Homo sapiens: one gene and its partners. The protein of the gene in region 1 interacts with the protein of each later gene in a pairwise test. Each region holds a gene or a part of one and is shown in the gene's direction. Other genes may lie near its edges.

The links. Proteins that work in one complex are often made in the same cells at the same time.
Region 2: the proteins of ROPN1 (region 1) and AP1M1 interact in binary tests that used the Homo sapiens proteins (3 or more experiments, as listed by UniProt).
Region 3: the proteins of ROPN1 (region 1) and LMO4 interact in binary tests that used the Homo sapiens proteins (3 or more experiments, as listed by UniProt).

What each region holds. Positions count from the first base shown.
Region 1 is NC_000003.12:123,968,486-123,975,124, reverse strand, and holds the end of ROPN1 (ropporin-1A), read left to right. Parts: intron 1-4,907; coding exon 4,908-5,083; intron 5,084-5,903; coding exon 5,904-5,970; 3' UTR 5,971-6,110; downstream 6,111-6,639. UniProt on the Homo sapiens protein: Important for male fertility. With ROPN1L, involved in fibrous sheath integrity and sperm motility, plays a role in PKA-dependent signaling processes required for spermatozoa capacitation.
Region 2 is NC_000019.10:16,200,887-16,207,915, forward strand, and holds part of AP1M1 (AP-1 complex subunit mu-1), read left to right. Parts: intron 1-2,572; coding exon 2,573-2,729; intron 2,730-5,454; coding exon 5,455-5,522; intron 5,523-7,029. UniProt on the Homo sapiens protein: Subunit of clathrin-associated adaptor protein complex 1 that plays a role in protein sorting in the trans-Golgi network (TGN) and endosomes.
Region 3 is NC_000001.11:87,338,856-87,345,884, forward strand, and holds part of LMO4 (LIM domain transcription factor LMO4), read left to right. Parts: intron 1-680; coding exon 681-777; intron 778-1,191; coding exon 1,192-1,347; intron 1,348-5,932; coding exon 5,933-5,941; 3' UTR 5,942-7,029. UniProt on the Homo sapiens protein: Transcription cofactor. Plays a role in establishing motor neuron identity, in concert with MNX1, acting, at least in part, to disrupt LDB1-LHX3 complexes thereby negatively modulating interneuron genes in motor neurons.

The sequences.
Region 1 (6,639 bases):
TTATGAATATTGCCCTCAGATTTATTTTCACTCCGCTCCTTCCATTCATATTCCCAGAGACAACCAAGAGCCGACTGTAGAAAAAGACTTCCAGACACCTAGAATATATATCAATAGACACTGTTTAAAAGGGGTACAATCTTATCGAAAACTATGTAATAAACAGAATTGGATGCAGAACTCAGACATAAGAAAGCAAAAAAAAAGAGAGATGAGGCTATTTCTGAATTTAGTCATGACATCTCCATGGATGCAGGATGTTCATACAGATTTATGCCTTTTCCAAATTTGACTTGTTTGATATTGGAAATGCAATTTTACTGTTTTGAAGCCAAAGATGCTGAAATCAGCTTATATGTATAGATATTTAAAGCTTGGGTATCTTATATGTGGACTTACATTGCTAAACATTGTTAAAATAACTTAAAATGAATCAAAAACGTGTTTTTTTAAAAGAATCCCTGAGATACATACAAGTTTGAAAATTATTGAGAAAATAATTGCCTCTGCCAAAACCAAATGGTATGAAAAGGTAGTCTGAATCATTCAGCATATCTAAACATAATCTTGTTCTTCTCAAATATGCTTGGAATACATATTTGACAGGTTTGTTTCTGAGAAAATTTAGTGGAAATATTGTAGTCCAAATTTCCTATAGATTCCCCTACAGCCTTCATCATAATCATTTCTTTAGAGAGAAGTAAACAAGAGGACATTTGTGGCACTTTCTTCATTGTCCTTTATAGCATTTATTACTGAATAAATCACTATCCTCTGAGGAGGAAAGGAAAGTAAGCAGCAGAGGCCTATGAGTTGTCAGTCAGGACTGGGGAAAATCACAAACAGGAAGATAAAAAATGAACATATTTTATTAAATTCTCATAGGGTTACAGATTTTTTTCACACCACATTTGGAGACGTTTTTGGGGGAAAATATACCTTTAAAATTTTATCTGTAGTTAATTTGGATCTTCTTGGTCTACCCCACCCACAAAGGGTCAAATAAGAAAATAAATAAATTCAATCCAATCCTGAAATTTTAGTCTGATGCAGTAACTGAAACAGCCTAAAGGTAAATTTCCCAGTATCTCAGGTTTTTCCTCACCACGCTCTCTTCTCCAAGATGGCAGTTGAATGTAGGCAGAAAGAGCTGACTCTAGGACCACAGAGCAGTCAAGTGAAGGGTTTCTCACATCCCTTAGTCTTCCCTGGCATCTCTGGTCTCCATGGTAATGCCTGTCTGTCTGGTCGCTAGCTGCTTGCAGCTTAAGTTTTTGGTCTCGTCTCTCCCGGACTGGTGAAAGGCTGATGATGCCTCCCCAACTGGCTCATTTCAGTTCTCAATGGTGTCGAGGGCCTCCTTGATTCTCTGCCAGGCTGTCCTATCTGCTCCCTGGCTCTGGTGGTCTACTTCACAGACCCTCACCAGTGTGTGGTGTGTCTGAGTTCTTCCCTTATCCCCATACCTCACAGTAACAAAGAGTGACTTTGGAAAGTCAGATTCCAACCCTCCCTCTGCTTAGCCCACGGTGTAGATGCTAGGTTTCCTCTGATGTACCTGCCTCCCAAACTGGAGAGGGGAAACCATGAGGTGAATTGAATCTTTCTACTTCCCTTCTAAAATAAGGAGGTGGGATTCAATATTCCATGAGGTTCATCTACCTCTGACATCCTGTGATTCTATCCCCACTTCTCTGCTTCCTCTGAGACACCCTCAGGCCCACCTCTGAATAACAGTGAGCTCCTCCAATTCTAAGAGGCCTTGACATATCTGACTTTGCTCCTCATCATCCCCATGTCAAAGAACCCCTAGAGATAAAGTCAGCCTGGAGGTTAAATCTGCAAATAAAGGGTGTCCTATGAAACCAGTAATCAATACCCTTATATTCATTTCTATCATGCTGGAGCTGGACTGTTTCTGGGATCTTAAATGTGGGGTTGGCCAGTGGTACGGTGTGAATGTTTGTGTTCTCCCAAAATTCATATATTGAAATCTCAACTTCCAAGGTGATGGCCTTAAAAGTAGGGCCTCTGGGAGTTGATTGGGTCATGAGGGTGGAGCCCTCATGAATGGGATTAGTGCCCTTATAAAAGTTGCCCCTCCACCAAGTGAGGACACATAGAAGGCATCATTCATGAGGAACAGGCCCTCACCAGAGAGCAAATCTGCTGGCCTCTTGGTCTTGGACTTCCCAGACTCCAAAACTGTGAGCAATACATTTCTGTTGTTTATAAATTACCCAGTCTAAGGTATTTTATTATAGCTGAGACTAAGTCAGGGGTCACCATCTGGTGGAGACCTTGCATCCTAGTTAATTCATATATCCTTAGAGGCAAGCCCAGAATTTCTCTTTCCTTTGCCAATTCAATAGCAAGACAAGATCTCTATGCCATTCAGAAAAGCCAGTTTGTTCCTTGTAGAAGATCTAGTAACAGGAATTTTTACTCTGGTAGGTAATAGGTACATTTACTCCATCTTGAGCTCTCTGCGTCTAATACACATTATTCAGAATGCGATGGCATGCAGACCTGTATTCCTCCTCCCTTCAGCACTCCTTCCTCTGGACTGGCCTATGCCACCTCCTGTTCCACTGAACTGATTATTAAAAAAGGAAGAGATCACGTATGTAGAAAATAATCATGTTCACTGGAAGGAATGACATATTTGTTAGCAAACGATTTACATTTCAAGGCTTTCACCTCTAACTTTGAAAATGAAGCTCGCAAGATGCTTAAAGATTATGTCTGTGAAGCGGATCCCAAAAAAATATTGTGCAAGAGAATGAAGATCTGTTTACTTTAGGTTTATGTCAGTTTACCAAATAGCTCCAGTCCAAAGAGTTATTTATACACTCATCCATTTATTAAATCTTTAAAAATACTTAAAAATCTTATGAGGCAGTAGAATTTGAAGGTTTGTAGTTTGAATAATCAATAAAAGATGATGTTTAGGGTTGAAAGCCGCTATGTTAGTTTGTTGCCATGACTTGGTGGCTTGAACAACAGAAATTTGTTGTCTCTCAGTTCTGGAGGACAGTTCTGGGAACAAGCTGTCAGCAGGATTGCTTTCTTCTGAGGCATTTCTCCTTGGCTTAAAAATGGCCAGCTTCTCAAACTGTGTTCCTCTGTGCCTACATGTCTGGTGGCTCTCTCTTTATATCCTAACTCCTCTTCTTATAAAGACACCCTACTAACTTCATTTTAACTTATCTTTTTAACGGTCGTATGTTCAAATACAATCACATTCTCCAGTTCTGGGGTTAAGGCTTTGGCATGAACTTTAGGGGGAACAATTCAGCCCATACCAGCACCCCATGGGAGAGGGCAACAGAACAAAGCATTAGGGGTGCAGAGGGTTGTTTTTGTTCATTTGTTTGTTTTTTACAGAAACAGGGTGAGCTGTGGGTGGAAATTATAATGTTCAGAGTGTGCTTGCAAATCTACCCCAAACCATTCTCCCACTGACCTCATCTCACATGCATGATTTACCATCCTCCCAGACAGCCTCATATATACTAGTTGGCCCCATGCCTGCCCTCCCACCTGCTCTGAATTAAGTGAAAGTGAGTAGAAGATGCAGTGTTTCACAACAATTTCCATGAGAGGACCCCCAGGGGCAGAGGAGAGGAAAGGAAGGTGGCCTGCCTCAAACTCAATTTTTTTTGACATCATGTATTGAAGATTCTGTTTTATAAAATAACAATGCTTATTAAATGTAAAGAATCAAATTTGAAATATTAACTCAATTAAAATTAATAATTATTACAAATTATGTTTAAATTACTTGCCATCAAGTAAAACTATCACTCAAGGAAGAGTTTATTCACATCCTCAGTACCTCCTGACATAGACTTACGCTCCTGGGTAACACACACCACAGTTAGAGAAGCCTCATCTAGGCAATCATTCTGTTCTGGGAGAGGATGAGAGGAGAACAGCAGACATCAACTGCTAAGGCAGGACAAGTCTCCTCTACTAATCATGTGGGAAGATACAGCAGCTGCTTTTTCACTCACCCTAAGTCACCACTCAGAACTGATCTTTCACTGATCCCTGGAAGAGTGTCAGGATGATCCGTACATCATCAGTTTCAGTAAACCACCAAGATCTGTTGGTGACCTTCATTTCACAACTCTTTTGCTTGTAACATTTATTCAAAGGGTGGGTTATTTAAAGACATGAGATGAGTTCTGAGCATGCTCCTTTAATGTTCAAGTTTCATTGCAAGGAGGGTTTGCTTCTGTAGTAACCCTTCTATTAAAATTCCTGGCACTCATTGTCAACCAATATTTCCCCAGCAATAAAAGGGTTAGTATTATGTAGTATGAAATAAAGCACTAGCTGATTCTATTTAGATGGACCCAGATGCTTTAGAGGAACGTTTATCTTGATGTTTAAGAACATTTTTCCAGTATCTTCCTGGGACTCCATTTTCCTGGGGAAATTACCCTTCTCCTACCTTCTTCTCCTCTACTGTGTCATTGCCACAAGTATCCTGCTGGACTATATAGGCTAGACCATCTATCTCAGCCCTTTAGAGATAAGACTGGAGGGTAATAAGAAGAAATAATTCTAATTATATAGAATGCAAATCAACTTCCCTCCTTTAGTGAGGTTATTCGGGCTAAAGTAACAAATATCTTAAAGTACTTAGGAATGTATAAATTTAATTCCTTGAGTAGTCTTCCAACAAAGAAAGAAAAGAAATAAAGATACCCAATACTTAATATTTTTTAGAATGAATTAGTGACATTTGAATGTAAAAATTTCAAGCTTTCTAGAATCTTAAATTGTTCCCACTTCATTTTATAAGAGCAATATTTTTGTTTTCTTTCTTGTATCTAAACCGATCTCAGGAATATTGCCTGGAAGAGTAACTTTCTCCTCATTTTATCTAACTTTTATAGACTATTACCAAAACTCTCAAGATAGTGTGTGAGGTCTTATCATGTGACCATAATGGTGGGTCGCCCCGGATCCCGTTCAGCACCTTCCAGTTTCTCTACACGTATATTGCCAAAGTGGATGGGGAGATCTCTGCATCACATGTCAGCAGGATGCTAAACTACATGGAACAGGAAGTGTAAGTTAACTTTTGTCAAGTGGAGGTGAAAGAATACCAGGAAAAGAAATCTAGCTGGCCAAGATAGTGAGATTATTGTATTATACTGCTCTGGAAACAGAAAAGTATTGTGAGAAACATGAAATATGGATGATCTGAAAGAAAACGGGAAAGGGAAGGAGAAGAGGAAGGAAAAGAATGATATAGGAAAACAATTCTTTCAGTGCTACTGAGACTAGCAGTAGCGGCAGCAGCACCTAAGAAGATGTTAGAAATGCAGAATCTCAGGCTACACCCTGGACCTATGGAATCATAAACTCTAGGGCCAGAGCCCAGGAATCTGTGTATTTATAAGCCCCCCTAGTAACTCTGACTCACGCTTAGCTATGACCAGTGGAACAGAAGTGGAGAAGGAGGAGGAGGAGAAGCAGGCAGTCAAAGGTTAAAAGAAAAAGAGGGCCGGTCATGGCGGCTCACACCTGTAACCCTAGGGTGGGTGGATGGCTTTAGCTCAGGAGTTCAAGACCGGCCTGGGCAATCTGGTGAAACCCTGTCTTTACTAAAAATACAAAAATTAGCTAGGCGTGGTGGTATGTGTCTGTATCAGTTAATTGGGAGAATAGCTTGAGCCCAGGAGGCAGAGGTTGCAGTGAGCCAAGATTGCACCAGTTACTCCAGCCTGGATGACAGAGCCAGACCCTGTCTCAGAAAACAAAACAAAACAAAAAAAGAGAAAAAGGAGCAACAGCAGAATTAATGTGAAATGAGAGTTGTTTGCATATTGTCTTTCTTAAGATTAACTGTCAATGAACTAACTGCAGATATACCTTTTTCCAAACAGAATTGGCCCTGATGGTATAATCACAGTGAATGACTTTACCCAAAACCCCAGGGTTCAGCTGGAGTAAAAGCACAATTTTGGCAATTTTAAAGGAAGATACAGAGATGATTGTACTTCAGAATGACTGAAACCCATATACCACCCAAAATCAATTTTCTTGTACAACTGGTACACACTAATAAACAATTAAACATATGAGATCAGAAATGTGCAGAATTAAGATGTGAAATTGTTGGAACAAAACACCTTCATTACCAGATTAGTATTCTTCCCACATGGACACTGAGTAAAAGTGGCTGACAAAGCATGGATAGAAAATGCATCTTCAATCAAAGCCAGACTGTCAGATTTTAAAAGGTAGTATGTTAACCAGACACAGTGTTGTTGTTCTGTGATTGTTAGGCATAATTTAGATGAGTGTCTTTTATATGGTCAATTGAAGTTTTTACCAGTTTATTTCTCCATTTGTTGGTACTGTGCTAGTCATTCATTCATCCTCTCACTCATCAATATTTATTGAGGTTAGCTATGTGCCAGGAATAGGGTTGCAAGAAATAAATACAGGACACCCAGTTAAATTTGAATTTCAGACAAACAACAAATATGTTTTGTTTTGGTTTTTGCTAAACCTGGCAGCATTCCAGGAACTATGCTGGCTTCTGAGCACATACAAATAAATAATATCAGAATTCTGCCTTCAAGGAGCTCACAGTCTAACATTAAGATACGACATGAA
Region 2 (7,029 bases), on another chromosome or scaffold:
CCTACGCGTGCCTCCCCATGCTGTCACTCTTCCCAGGTGGGCTTTGACTCATGTCCATGGGCCAGTGACTCTCAATTTTGTTCACAGCATTTCTCTGGAGATCTAGTGGCCTCTGAGACACCAGAGAGGTCCCGCCGCCACCATAAATTCAGCATTCTTCTAAATGCACTCCCTGTACCTGCTCTCTTTCCATTTCAGTGATGCCATCACCCATTCAGCCATCTGCACAAGAGACCTGGACGTTATCCTCGCCTCCTTTGTCTCCTCACCCCTGTTTTCACTCCACAAATGTTTACTGAGCACCTACTATGGTCCAGGCCCCTTTCTGGGTGCTGGAAAACAGCTGTGAATGAGACAGGAGTAGTTGCTGTTCTCAGGGGATGTCAGACAGTAAAGGAGGATAGAAATAAATGTTTAATGCACCAGGTGATAGGGATAAAGCAGGGGTCAGGGTTCAGAGGGATGGGACATGATCTCAGCCAGAGCAAGCAGGGAGGATTTCTTTTTTTTTTTTTTTTTTTTTTTTTTTTGAGATGGAGTTACGTTCTGTCAGCCAAGCTGGAGTGCAATGGCACAATCTCGGCTCACTGCAACCTCTGCCTCCCAGGTTCAAGTGATTCTCCTGCCTCAGCCTCCCAAGTAGCTGGGACTACAGGCATGCACCACCACGCCTGGCTAATTTTGTATTTTTAGTAGAGACAGGGTTTCACCATATTGGTCAGGCTGGTCTCAAACTCCTGACTTCAGATGATCCGCCTGCCTCAGCCTCCCAAAGTGCTGGGATTACAGGCGTGAGCCACCGCGCCCAGCTGGGAGGACTTCCTAGAGGAGGTGTTATTTGAGCTGAGGCTTGAGAAATGAGAAGAGCCAGGTCAGGGCAAAGGCCCGAGGTGGGAACAGATGTGGATCACTCAGAGACCAGCTAAGGGGCCAGGCTGGAGCAGAGTGAACCAGGGCAGCGCAGGCAGAGAGGCGTCAGAGGGGCTGTGAGGAGCCAGACCACGCTGGTCCTTGGGAGCCATGGGGACGGGCTTGGGCTTTGTTCTCAGTGCCGGGGAGGCTGGGGTAAGTGGCAGTTCAGCAGTGGGGGAGAGACCCCGTCTGGCTTCTGTGTAGGAAGAGCCCTGTCACCCTTTGTGAGGAAGGACCTGGGGGGTCAAGAGTGACAGCAGGGGGAGGGGCTGTTCCCTCAACACGTCATCACCTGCCTCCCTCCAATCAGTTCCACAGGCCACGAAGCAGACACTAGGAAAGGAAGGTGCCACCCCGCACCACCCCCAGTCTCGCCTTGAGAGAATAAAGGCAGCGTGTGATGAAATGCCAAGTTCTGAGGCAGGTGGTTCCCAGGATGGTCAGCGCCGCAATGGCCTTCTCAGCATGTTGCTGAGTCCTGCAGCTGGCTGTCCTGCAGGCCCCAAGAGCTGCAGCTGCTCCAGGCAGCATCTCCAACCGCAGCCATGCCCAGGCTAGCAAAACTTCCGACCTCCTTTTTATTCTTTAATGAGGTATAATTTACATTAATAACCTGCACTTATCTAAAGTGTACAATTTGATGAGCTCAGTCATGTGGGAAGCCATAACCACACATTCCATCGCCCCCGAAAGCTTCTTCACACCCCTTTGCTGTCTAGCCCCATCCCTAGGCACCCACCGATGTGTTTTTCATCACCATTTTCTAGGATTTTATACACGTGCAGTCATGCAGGATGAGCTCTCGTTTGTCTGGTTTCTCTCAGCCAGCACAGTGATTCTGATGCGCCTGTGTATCGGGAGTCCGATCCCTTCCGTTGCTGAGGCATGCTTCTCATGGTGTGCACGGATACAGTTTGTTTCTAGTTCACCTGCTGAAGGACATTGGCATTGTTTCTAGTCTGGGTCTGTTTCAATTAAAGCTGCTGTTAAGATTCTCGTGCTAGTGTTTGTGCAGACATGTGGTTTCATTTCTCTTGGGTAAATACCAGAGAGAGGAATGACTGGATCGTATGGTAACTCTGGGTTTCACTTTTTGAGAAACTGCCAGACTACACCAAAGTAGTTGTCCCATTTTCCATTCCTATCAGCAGTGGACAGGGGTTCTGGATGCTGTATATCCTGACCCACAGGCTATGAAAGAGAGAGACCAGGAAGAGGGCTTCTCCCTTCAGGCCACCTGTGGACTTCAGTAAATACGAACCTTCAGCGGGAGTGGGCGCCCTGACACAGGCGGGAGAGCAAGGTGCGTTGGCCCGGCAAAGGCTCTGAGAAGGTCTGCATTGAGAGCTTGTGAGGCATTGCTTAACCTGATGTCTCTGGGTGATTCAGTCCTGGACCTTTGCTGCAGAGTTCGCCTCTACCCTCACCCTGCGAAGAACTGCAGTGGCCCCTGTGGGCATTCACACTGGGAGATGCTCTTCTCCAGGAATTCCCTGGGGGATGGAGATCAGAACGGCCTCAAGTCCTGCTCTTTTGCGGATAGTGGCCATGACCGGAGTCCCCAGAGCGAAGCAGGGTGGTGCATCTCACCCCCTGCCCCAAGCCCCCAGATTGTAGAACTGAAAATGCAAGCATCTTTTCTCTTCCTTCCCCACCCCAGGTGCTCATCTGCCGGAACTACCGTGGCGACGTGGACATGTCAGAGGTGGAGCACTTCATGCCCATCCTGATGGAGAAGGAGGAGGAGGGGATGCTGTCGCCCATCCTGGCCCACGGGGGGGTCCGTTTCATGTGGATCAAACACAACAACCTGTATCGTATCCCTTTGCTGGGGGTGCTCCCAGGGGACTCCTGTGTGGGTGTTGGTGTGTGTGCATATCCACACGCCTGCAAGCAGGGCTGGTTTGTGCACAGCGCAAGCATTGGACACAGCCATGCCCTCCTGGAGCTCCCTGCTGCCTGCGGAGACAGGCAGACAATGCACGATGACATGTGTGATGGGTGTGGGGAGAGGAGCAGGTGTGACTTGAACCTCTTCAGCCCAGGGGCCCAGGAAGGGAAATGACACCCTGGAGGAAGCCTGCAGGGAGGCCTGGCTTCTGCCAGCTGGAGGGGTGGGCAGGCACTAGGCGTGGGTGAAGGCTCTGCAGGGAAGAGCCTCATTCCAACAGCTGCACTCGGGGTGGCTGGAGAGGGGGCGTGTAGGGCAGCGAGGCTGGAGTGGTCAGCGGGGTCTGGGGTCTCAAAGAACATCATCTGAAATGTGACAGGAAGTCTCTGGAGGCTTTTAGATGTGTGTCTTCTGGAGGTTTCTGGCTGCTGAGTGGGGCAAGACTGTGGGGACAGGAGAGGACATGGGTAGGTGGGGAGTAGGCTGGGGCCATCGTGCAGGTGGGAGGGGAAGTGGCCTGGACCACGGAGGGGTGGTGGGGTACAGCCCCGCCCAGATCTCAGAGCCCCCCACCCTTCCTGTCCTTGGGCCCATGGGGAGACTTGGCCAAGCCAGTTTCTATCCAGGAGGTCTAACTGGCCACCCCACAGCTTTGGGCAGACCCGCAAGCCCATCTCAGTACCCACACTACTGCGGAAGGGCCTGCTTTGCCACTCACAGCCCGTTTGAGCCCCAGCTCCAGCAGCCATGGGGGATCCCTCACCTTCCCACAGTTCAGTGGGAACAACGACCCCTCACTGCAGGACCATTCGGGTCAGTTGAACTGACTTGTGCATATTGCTCCCAGCAGGCATGGGCTCTGTGCCCTTTCCTGTGTTCTTGGAGACACTTGGGGCCTTGCCAGTACAGTGTGGCCAACGGGCCAGAATATCCGCTGGGAGCCCTTTGGAAATGCAGAATCCCAGGCTCCACCCAGCCCTGCCCCGTCAGAATCTGCATTGTAGGAAGATTTGTTCCTGGTGGCCGGTGTGCACATTCCCATGTGGGCCGTGCTGGCCCAGGGCTCCCTGTGGTGTGCCTCTGTGTAGATTTCACCTGGCTCTGGAAGGCCCTGAGAATAGCTCTGAAGATGATCTTAGGTGGCTTTTTTTTTTTTTTTGAGACAGAGTCTCGCTCTGTCGCCCAGGCTGGAGTGCAGTGGCGCCATCTGGGCTCACTGCAAGCTCCGCCTCCCGGGTTCGCGCTATTCTCCTGCCTCAGCCTCCCGAGTAGCTGGGACTACAGGCGCCCGCCACCACGCCCAGCTAATTTTTTTGTATTTTTTTAGTAGAGACAGGGTTTCACCATGTTAGCCAGGATGGTCTCGATCTCCTGACCTCGTGATCCGCCCGCCTCAGCCTCCCAAAATGCTGGGATTACAGTCGTGAGCCACCGTGCCCGGCCTAGGTGGCTTTTAACCCAGGGAACTGACAGTCCTCTGAAGCCGCCCAGGTATTGGGAGAGGGAGAGGTGGCTGTGGTCTGAGCTCAGCAGGAGCCATCAGATCAGTTTCTGGTTGGGCCCCCACATTTCACACCTGGGCATCTAGGGAAGAGACAGGGAGGGCTCACCCCTCTGGCTTAGTGGACATCGTTTCACCCCCAGCCGGGACAGTGCTCAGCAAGGCCGTGGCTGAGAGGCACCCATGAGAAGGTGAGAGGCCCCCACTGCCCCTGCTTATAAAGCATCTGGGGAGGGCACATTGCCAGGCAGCAGGAGGGAGGCCAGCACTCGTTTGACTGGGCCAGCGTCCCTTTCCTGGGCCCCTGTGCTGTGCTGGGGTGAGGCGGGAAGGGAGAGGATACAGCCCCCACCCTCCCTCCTAGAGCTCACTCCTGGGCAGACGAGCCAGGCAGCACAGATGTGCCATGAACAGGGATGTCCAGGGTGCAGTGCATGGGCCTACAGAGGAAGAACCAGCCTTCTCTGGCGGCCCGGGGACCCATTAGGGAAAAAGGAATAGGAAGCGCCCAGCACACACTGACCCTGGGAGGCAGGGGCTGGCTCCTGTGGCAGAAGGGAACATCTGTGCCAGACATCTCACCTACATTGCCTTGGTGAGTTCATTCACAGGCCTCCATTACACAGGAGAGAAATATCAAGGTTTCTCTAGAAAGGTTTATTTCATGGGCCAAGGCTTGTGTTTCCAAAGCCAGGAAGGGCTGAAGCCAGAATTGGCCCTGGCTGCTTGCCACAGAGTCTGGCCGGGGGACCCTGGACCTCAGCAGGGTCATGATGAGGTCAGCTTTGGAGGAGCAGGGCCAGTGTGTCCTGCTTTCTGCTCCTGGAATGAGCCTCACTCCCTCCCTGCTCAAGGCAGCCCTTCACCCAGCCGCCGGGACAGGTGCCCTGTGCCACCTGCCATCCCTGTGATTCTCCATCTCAGTGAGTGCTCCCTGGGGCCTGGGAGCGCATCTGGCTGGTGACTCCTGTGTCCCAGGTCTAGCTTGGACCAGGAGCTTTGTAGCCCACCATGGGCCAAGTAAACGGCTGGGAGTGGGGATAGGGAAGGCTCTGAGGGTTGTGAGGGTTAGGGGGTCCCTCCATGAACCAGGATCTTCCAGGCAGCAGCCCCAGCCTCTGAATGCTCCTTAACTGTGGCCGCCATGCAGTGGTTGCCACATCCAAGAAGAACGCGTGCGTGTCGCTGGTCTTTTCTTTCCTCTATAAGGTGGTGCAGGTGAGTCTCGCTCGGAGGGGCCGTGGGCTTGGGTGGAGGTTGTCTTGGCTCTGCTTGTGGACCTCCCCATACCTGGCCACCCTACAGAGAGCTGTGGCATCCCCAGGGAGCACTGGGGCTGGAAGCCCAGGAAGTGGGAAAGGGGAGTCCCAACTCCCCACGCCTGTGGAATTCTATAGCTCACGTTGCTCCCCTACCGTGGGGAAGAAAGGAAAGTGAACAGGAAAAGGTAGGGCTCAGAGCAGGGGTGCCCTGACCCTGGAAGGGACAAGCAGGGGTCAGCGAGCTTTGGAAGGATGTGGGGTGACCAGCTGGATGGGGCTGGAATAACCAGCAGAGCTGCAGAGCTGAGCCCACCTCAGAATCTCCCAGGGGGCTCTCAAGGCACAGATGCCTGACGCCCACCTTGGAGAGAGCTGACACGCCAGGCCCAGGCTGCCAGTGAGACACAGATAGCAGCCAGGGTGAAGGCGCCAGGACAGGTGTATGTGTGGTGCAGCTAGGGAGGCCAGCGTGCGTGTGGCAGAGTATGAGGCTGAGGTCAGCTGGGAAGAGGGCGGATTATACAGGAGTGTGGATTTCATTCCACTTCTGATGAAAGGTAGTGGAGGGCTTTAAGCAGGAGACTGACAAGACGTGGTTTGATCTAAAGCAGCCTCTCTGGCTGCTGAGCAGAAGGAGGACTTGAGGCCAGTGAGGAGGCTGCTGCTGGCTTCCCGGAGAGGATGGGCCTGGCCGAGGTGGGCTGTGGGGCTCACGAAAGTGGGGAACAGGACCCAGGAGGCCTGTGCTGGGCCTGGGAAAGCTTTCATCCCTCACTGATGCTGCCTGTGCAGAATGTTGGGGAACAGGGGCAAGCCTGGGCGGTGAGGGCTTGGGGAAGGAGCCGAGGGTCACCTGGGAAGGCCCCACGTGCAGGCCAAGGGCTGCCTTCACTGGACCGGTGATGCTGTCACAGGCAGGGCTGGGCCTGGCTGTGCTGCCTGTGGTTTCCAAGCAGAGGCCGGGTGATCACAGTCCTGAAGCGCGCAGGGGTCAGCAGATCAGAGAATGGGGGATGCGGGAAGGGGAAGGTCCTCACCCAAGGGTTGGGCTGTGCCTTTCTGTTTTAGTGACGCTCCTTCCTTCAGCATTTGTGCCTGCAAAAGTGCTTCTAACAGCCCCTCTTCTTTGGCGTCCCTTCCTTAACCTTCTGAGCTTTCCATTGAAATGGGGAAGATGCATCAAGCTTTCCACTGAAATGGGGAAGATGGCAGCTCATCAGGTCCTTGCCTGAGTCACTCCAGACTCAGAAAGGGATGACAGTTACAGTCGCTCAGGAGGGGCTGCCTGTCTGCGGGTGTCTGGGCAGGGAAGAGAATGGGAACGCAGAGCTTCTGAAGGCCTCGGGACATCTGCAGTGGCTCCAGCCTGGCCCCACCCCACAGCCAGCCACTGCTGTCCTGCCCCATAACCTGGGTCCAGGGCCCTGTAGCACACCACCGAGCCTGGGAAGTAGGCTGTTGGT
Region 3 (7,029 bases), on another chromosome or scaffold:
GTAATCTAAATTGTGGACTCAGGAGCAGATAGAGGGAAGTTGGAGCAAGCATTTCATTATCAAGAGAGAGAGAAGGTTAGGATGAAAGAGATGAGCAGAGGCAAATCTTAAGTGTTGACACCATGATTGAAAAGGTTAACCCATACACATTATATATCAACCTGGATAGCAGAGAGTTTCTAATGGAAAGTCTGCACTGATGGAGGTTTACGGGAGTTTCAATACACTGAGCATGATGTCTTCTTAGATATACAATCAAATCCTCTTAACCCTTTTGATGACTCATATCTGAAGATATGATTAAAGTACAAAAGAGTTCTTCATATAATTTCAAGGACACAATGCATTTAAACTCCAGTCATGAATTGTATCTTTTTTTTTTTTATGATGAACCTAGTAATCTGATAAAATGTGTGTAGAACAGAATTGTATTTGCTAGAGGTGTAAGTCAATATTTTGATTAAATCTGGGGCATCCTCTGCGGTAGGCAGAAGTTTGTTGTCCCACAAAAAGGATTTTTCCCAGATTATGTAAATCACTCAGAAAATCTGAGGCTTGAGCCTAAGAATTCAGCCTGTCAAATGCATTCCAAAGGGATGCCCAGAGTCTGGGGGTGTTTTTCTTTCTTTTTCTTTGGTTTAGGATTATTCACTGGTGTCAACCGTTATTCTTTGTTTCAGGTTATTTGGAAATAGCGGTGCTTGCAGCGCTTGCGGACAGTCGATTCCTGCGAGTGAACTCGTCATGAGGGCGCAAGGCAATGTGTATCATCTTAAGGTAGTATTTGCATCTCTCTTTTTTTTTTAAAAAAAAAATCATACCTTTCCTACCTACATGGGGGCAAAGCATTTCTCCTTGGTATGAACTGTTTTCTCAAGCTGCAGACACTTGAAGGAATGATTGAAATTGTAGCATGGCAGTGATGGTTACACATCCACATGCACAGACCACGCTTCCCCTATGCCACAGACAGAAGTACACATGTATTTGGATTTGTCCCCATTTAGCCTGGTCCAGTTGATAGCAATTTGGCTTACTGTTTTCTGGAGATCTGTCAAAGGAAGAAAAAACGCTAAACCCTAAGTGTCTCTGTACTTGACAGATACCTGCTTAATAACAGGTTATAAACTTGTGACCAAAAAAAGACTTAATTTTTACCTTGTTTTCAGTGGGTTTGTTTTTCCCTTTCAGTGTTTTACATGCTCTACCTGCCGGAATCGCCTGGTCCCGGGAGATCGGTTTCACTACATCAATGGCAGTTTATTTTGTGAACATGATAGACCTACAGCTCTCATCAATGGCCATTTGAATTCACTTCAGAGCAATCCACTACTGCCAGACCAGAAGGTGAATACCCAGCAATTACTAATAAGCTTTATTAGAGCAAGTTGGAAGGTTCAACCTCTTAACCTAGCAAGAGAGTTTTCTTGGGTGGTTGTATTTTTGCATGCCCTTTTAAAGAAATGTAGATTACTAGTTGTACATAGAGTGTTCAGAAGTAGGATAGCTGATTAAATTGTGAATCCTTTCTAGTTAAAAAAAAAATCCTGACTTTGTTATATCTGTAGCTTCACTCACGTTGAACATAAGATTATCACATGCAAAAGCAAACAAAATGTAAAGCTTCCATATAACTGGTTATTTATTCCATTTGACAATTTTGAAATTCAGAAACATGATGTGATAGGTTATTGTGGAAGAAAAATTAGAACATTTATGGTAGGAAAAGAGAATAAAGATCTTTGTTATGAAAGAATGATTTCTGCGTTAGGAATAGCAATCTGGACACCTGCCTTCCAAACCCAATTTACAATTCATTTACTTTTTAGAAGAGTAATTTTACAAAACATTCTGTAACTTCATAAGAGGGCATTTTTGTTCATTGGCGGTACCATAACATTTGAATAAGTTATGGCTTTTAAAACCAAGTTCTTGTTCTTGCTAACCCGCTTAGTGCCATTAATAGTGCCATTAGAAATTATGTATCTTGATTCTTGATCCACAACTTGAAAATCCTTGTACCAGAATTAAAAATTAGGAAATTATACAAGTATACAAATCATGTAGTATTAGAAGATATTCCAGAGGGAAAATTGGTGATCAACAGTTGTCCAGCACCCCCAGTACTGGATAGTTTTAGATCTATTTTAATCTCCTTAATAAGTCCTATAGCTATGCAAGTGAGTGCATTTTGATAACTGCTGTGCCTAATTTGTAACAATTACTGTCAACCTTCAGTTAAGAGACTGTTCATTCCACACCGGCCCAGAAAAGAGTGAAATGTATGACTCGTGTGCATAATTTTATTCACATCATATTTCATACTGATTATGTATTGATGACATTGATTCATTTACTCTTTACAGCGCCACTTGCATGGATATTAAATCTTATTGACCACAGATGAATTTTAATTTCAGATTGGTGATAGATTTTTCCATCAGCTCTGATAGTATGTTTGACTTTTTCATCATTAACCCAGGCAATCACACAGCACTGAGTTATTGCATTGAAACAAAAAGTGCACACTTCACTTGGTAATTCTTTATGGATTTACAATAGGAACTTCATTAATGTCTGTTGTAAGGATCACAAAAAAAACAACATTTATCTGCAAATAGGAATTTAGCAAGCTTCAAAAATCTCGGGGAAAAAAATAGACTTTTTTGTCTTCTGTAATGCATTTTCTTAGTGCGGTGGTGGAGGTGGGGGTTTGACAAATATTTGAAAACTTTTAACCATTAAAATTATGCTGCCATATTTTGATGCTTATATTTGCCCTTTTCCCTTGCTCAAGTTTATGAGGTAATTTTAAATGTATGTTCTGTTTCTTAGTGTTAATTACATGACATTATGTGCACTTTAATTTACTAATATGGGGAGCTACATAGAATAACCATTTTAAGAATAAAAGTTGAACTTTTTAATTGCAAACTAACCAGTCACTGCTGATGAGGTATTTCAAGCTTCTTCAAGGAGTGCCAAGACATATAAATGCTTAAAGATTTTTGTGATTTGGATTCTAATGAAGTGAATCTGCAGGGCAGAGTTGAGAACAATGAATGAGCAACATAAATATTTGGAGATACCTATTCAGAATAGAGGTAAAGCTGTTTGTAGTTACACTTGGTAGCAAAAAAGAAAAAATATGCTAGAAATAAAATGGTAGACCTTCTCTCCACTCCTTCTGATGTAAAAGCTTAATTTTTCCCCGAGTTAGAGCTTCACTTTGTTGCTGGTTTTATACCATTTCTTTCTCTGACTTAGCAAAGTACTATACAAAAAAATGATTGTTGCAGTTCACCAGCATGCATGGTGAGAATGAAAGGATGTAGAGATGAGATGGAAAATGTTGCTAGATTGTGAAGCACTGAATACAGGCAATAGCAGTGTTAGGTAGGGACCAAGTATAAAGCACACCTAAGAAATATGAGCAGGATTTCATACCATCTTTTATAGTATAAGATGGCATAAATTTAGAGGTGTTAGGGAGGAGAACTGCAGAAAAACCAGGTTTACCTGTTGATGAGATTACATGTCTTATGCCTTTCATTGAAATCTGTTTTCCACACCTTTTCCAGGATGGCAGTGGTAGGGTATTCATTTTGGAACACTATATTTTAGGCAATGAATAAGAACCTATTAGTGTATGTTTTCTTAATGTTGGAGGCCAAAAAAGAGACAGGTGGCCTTCAAAAATTAATAGCTCTTAAAAGGCATAAGGAAATACAACTTATGGAAATGTTCTTGTCAGACATTGGTGAGAAGCTGTGTTTTGGGGGTGCTGTTAATTAAGAACATTTCCCTGTTGGCGTAAGTGTCTCACATTTTTGCCCTTGGTGCCCAGCTCACCATGAGCACGGTCAATTCACAAGGTAGTTTTTATAAATAAAGGTTTTGGGCAAGCTGAACGTGGTCCAGAGAGATATTAATGAGAGGGCAAGGGGGAAGAGTTAATGAAAACATACTTCCTGGTGGAACATAAACTGCTTTTTGGAACTGGAGAGGCTTTAAAATTATTTTCCCAAAACCCTGTGGCGTTTCTTTTCTGGAGGCAATGAGATGGGGAGAAATGACAAATGGCTTCGTTTTATTATTTTCTCCTCTCTCGTTCTCCATATTTTTGGTAGGGAAAATTGGACATTTATTTTGGCCATTTTCCTTCTATTCGCAGAATCAATTACATTTTTGGTGTATTATGCGTGGTAAATATACTCAAGGATCCTCTGGCTTAAAAGCAATGAGTTGATTATTCGAACATCCCTTCTTTAAAGGCAGTTAATTGCATGGAAAACATAGGCCCCCATTGTCTGGTCCCTTTAAACTTTTATTCTGAGATTTGTTCCCAGGGTCTGGGCTGTGTAGTGTAGTTGTTGTTCTGCATCATTGGCTGTTGTATATTCCAAGAAAAATAATTTTAAGCTTTTAAATCATACAGTGATTGAAATCTTGCATTTCAGATGGACTGAAATCTCAGGCCACTAGTGTTCAAGGATCTACAACATTTTATAACCTATATCACTTAAAGGAGGCTTGGCTAGCTTTGGGAGAATGCTGCCTTCTAGAGGGTTATGTAAATCAGGAATTGTGGCTAATTTTTTCTTTTGTAGATTGCTGCCTGTTCTGGAATTTTTTTCTTCCACTCAAAAGTGTGATGGTGCCATCTAGAATTACCTGTGCTTTTCAGTTTTCAGTGGAACAGGAGTTAGATCACATCTCTTTAGTTGGAGGAAAATTTAGTGAGTGTTCTAGTCTACATGTCACTTCGCAGTTCCCCCATAGTTACATAATTGGTGTTGTGTGTGTCCATCGTAGAAGACATTTGATGCTCATTTATTAAATATGCTTGCTGGCTGCTGCTGCATCTTTGTTCTGGACAGACAAATTACCTTTCTCACACTGAGCTTCCACTCTGGGGAATTAAGCCTTCACCACTTTAATTAGCTTGGAAGTAGGGGGTTGCAGTTCCTAATAGACTACAGGCTTTTTGTAAGTTAGGGAAAGGGTGAAACGAGAACTTCCTGGGAGGCTCAAAATGTCATTTAAAAACCATAACAACCTAATATGTATTATTTCATTTTGGTAATTGCAAACAGATTGTATTTGACAAGTGTGTGGATTTCCATTTCTGACTTAGACATTGAAGCCACCCTTGCATTGAACTATGTTCTTTTATCTATCACAGGTCATTAACACATTGCATGTATTGAATCACATATTTGTGTAGCTATTAAGTGACATAGCAGATAAGAAATAGTGAAAAATATGTGAATATTTGTACATAGAAATTTTCATATAGACACACACCTATAGGTAGTACCAATATGGGTGAATATTTTTCACATGGGGATATCGGAATAATAATGATAACTGCCAGTATTTGTTGAACTTTTATTAAGGGCCAAGCACTGTTGAAAGTGCTCCCATATGTATTATGTAATTATCATAACAGTGTCATTATCCCTTCTTTAAAGATGAGGAAACTGAGACACAAGCAGTTTAAGCAACATTCCAAAAGGTTACACGGTTAAGCATATGAACCCAAAACTTCCTAGGTAGGAACTTGTCTTGGAATGTCCCCGCTATTTAAAAAATTCAAGATCCCACTGCTGGGCAAGATGTTACATTCCTTTTGGAAAGACACTTGCTCTTAACAGAGTTAAGCAATTAATTGTAGTACTTTACACCAGAAACTTTCTGAGCGTCCATTTACTGTCTCATTTTCTTTGCTAGTAAAACTGCAGAAAATGTTATGCTTTAGTTCTTCACTGCCAGAGTAAGTAGCATAGAAAGCCTCTATCAAGTCACAGTTGGAAAGTAATCTAATAAAAGAAGATTAGTGAATGTGGGGAAGACAAAAGCAGTCATGTTTGAGTTTAATATCTCTCAAATTTAGCATTTTAGCTAAGATGCCCGTTTTTATTTCTTGCAGGTCTGCTAAAAGGTCAGAGTAATGCAGAATGCGTGCCTTCATCTCAGATTTGTTCATCACAGGTGGATCCCATGTGTCTTCAGTAGACAAGTCACCTTTGTAGCTAGCACCAGTGCCAGCTCCATGCCATTGCACCTTCTTTAGTCTTGATTGCCCTTCCCGCATTTATTGGTGTATTAAAATGACTGAATATGAACATTAAGGACTCCATGAACCTGGGCTAATGGGAGACTGTAGAGAAAATGAAAAAAGATCCACCAGAGGACATCTTGGGGAGGGGGAGGGAGCTGGGGGGGAGGGAAATGACTAATGAAGCTAATTAAAAGAAGCATTCAAATCTGCTTTCTACCCTCATTAACAATTAGCAGGGCACTGGCCAGAGTTTGTACCCTGTGTTTTACCTTAACAACATTCTATTTGCTCTTTGTATATTTAAGTGTTGTAAGGAAACGTGTTTCAATCAAAACTGACCATGAGATAAAGGAAAGAGATGTGGCTTTTGTGATATTCTATCACAAACACTTATTGTATCTCTGTAAAATACAATGTATGTATGCATGTAAGTGTTTTTGTCCTAATGTTGCTACTCCCATGGCAAAGAAAAAAAAAAGAATGAAAAAAAGAAAAAAATTTGGAAAAAAAAATCAGGCTCATAGCAGCTACTGTGTAGAAAATTCCCCCTACTTCTAATTTGCTGAATGAAGAAAAAAAAAAATCTTTTATTTGTGATATTTTCAGAGACATTTGCTCTAGTATGGTGTATTTAAATAATAAAAACTTAAAAGAAAAAATATTTAATGGTGTTTGGGTTTAAACACTGCTTTTTCTCTTCTGTATTTTGAAGAAATTTAGTTTTTATTGTTGTTGAATAACAAGCTCACTTTAAATTTGAAGGAGTTGAGGGAGGTGGAGTGTATATTTATTTAGCTCTGGGCCAGTAAGGTATTCTTCAAATTACTTAACCACGCCATTATTGGCAGGGGTACAAAGTAGTTTCTAACAGGGTCCTTTCTATAAGTCAAGAATATTCTGTTAACAGCATTTCGTTACACTTCTATATCACAGTAAGTCTTTTGTGTTTATAAATACTTGAGTGT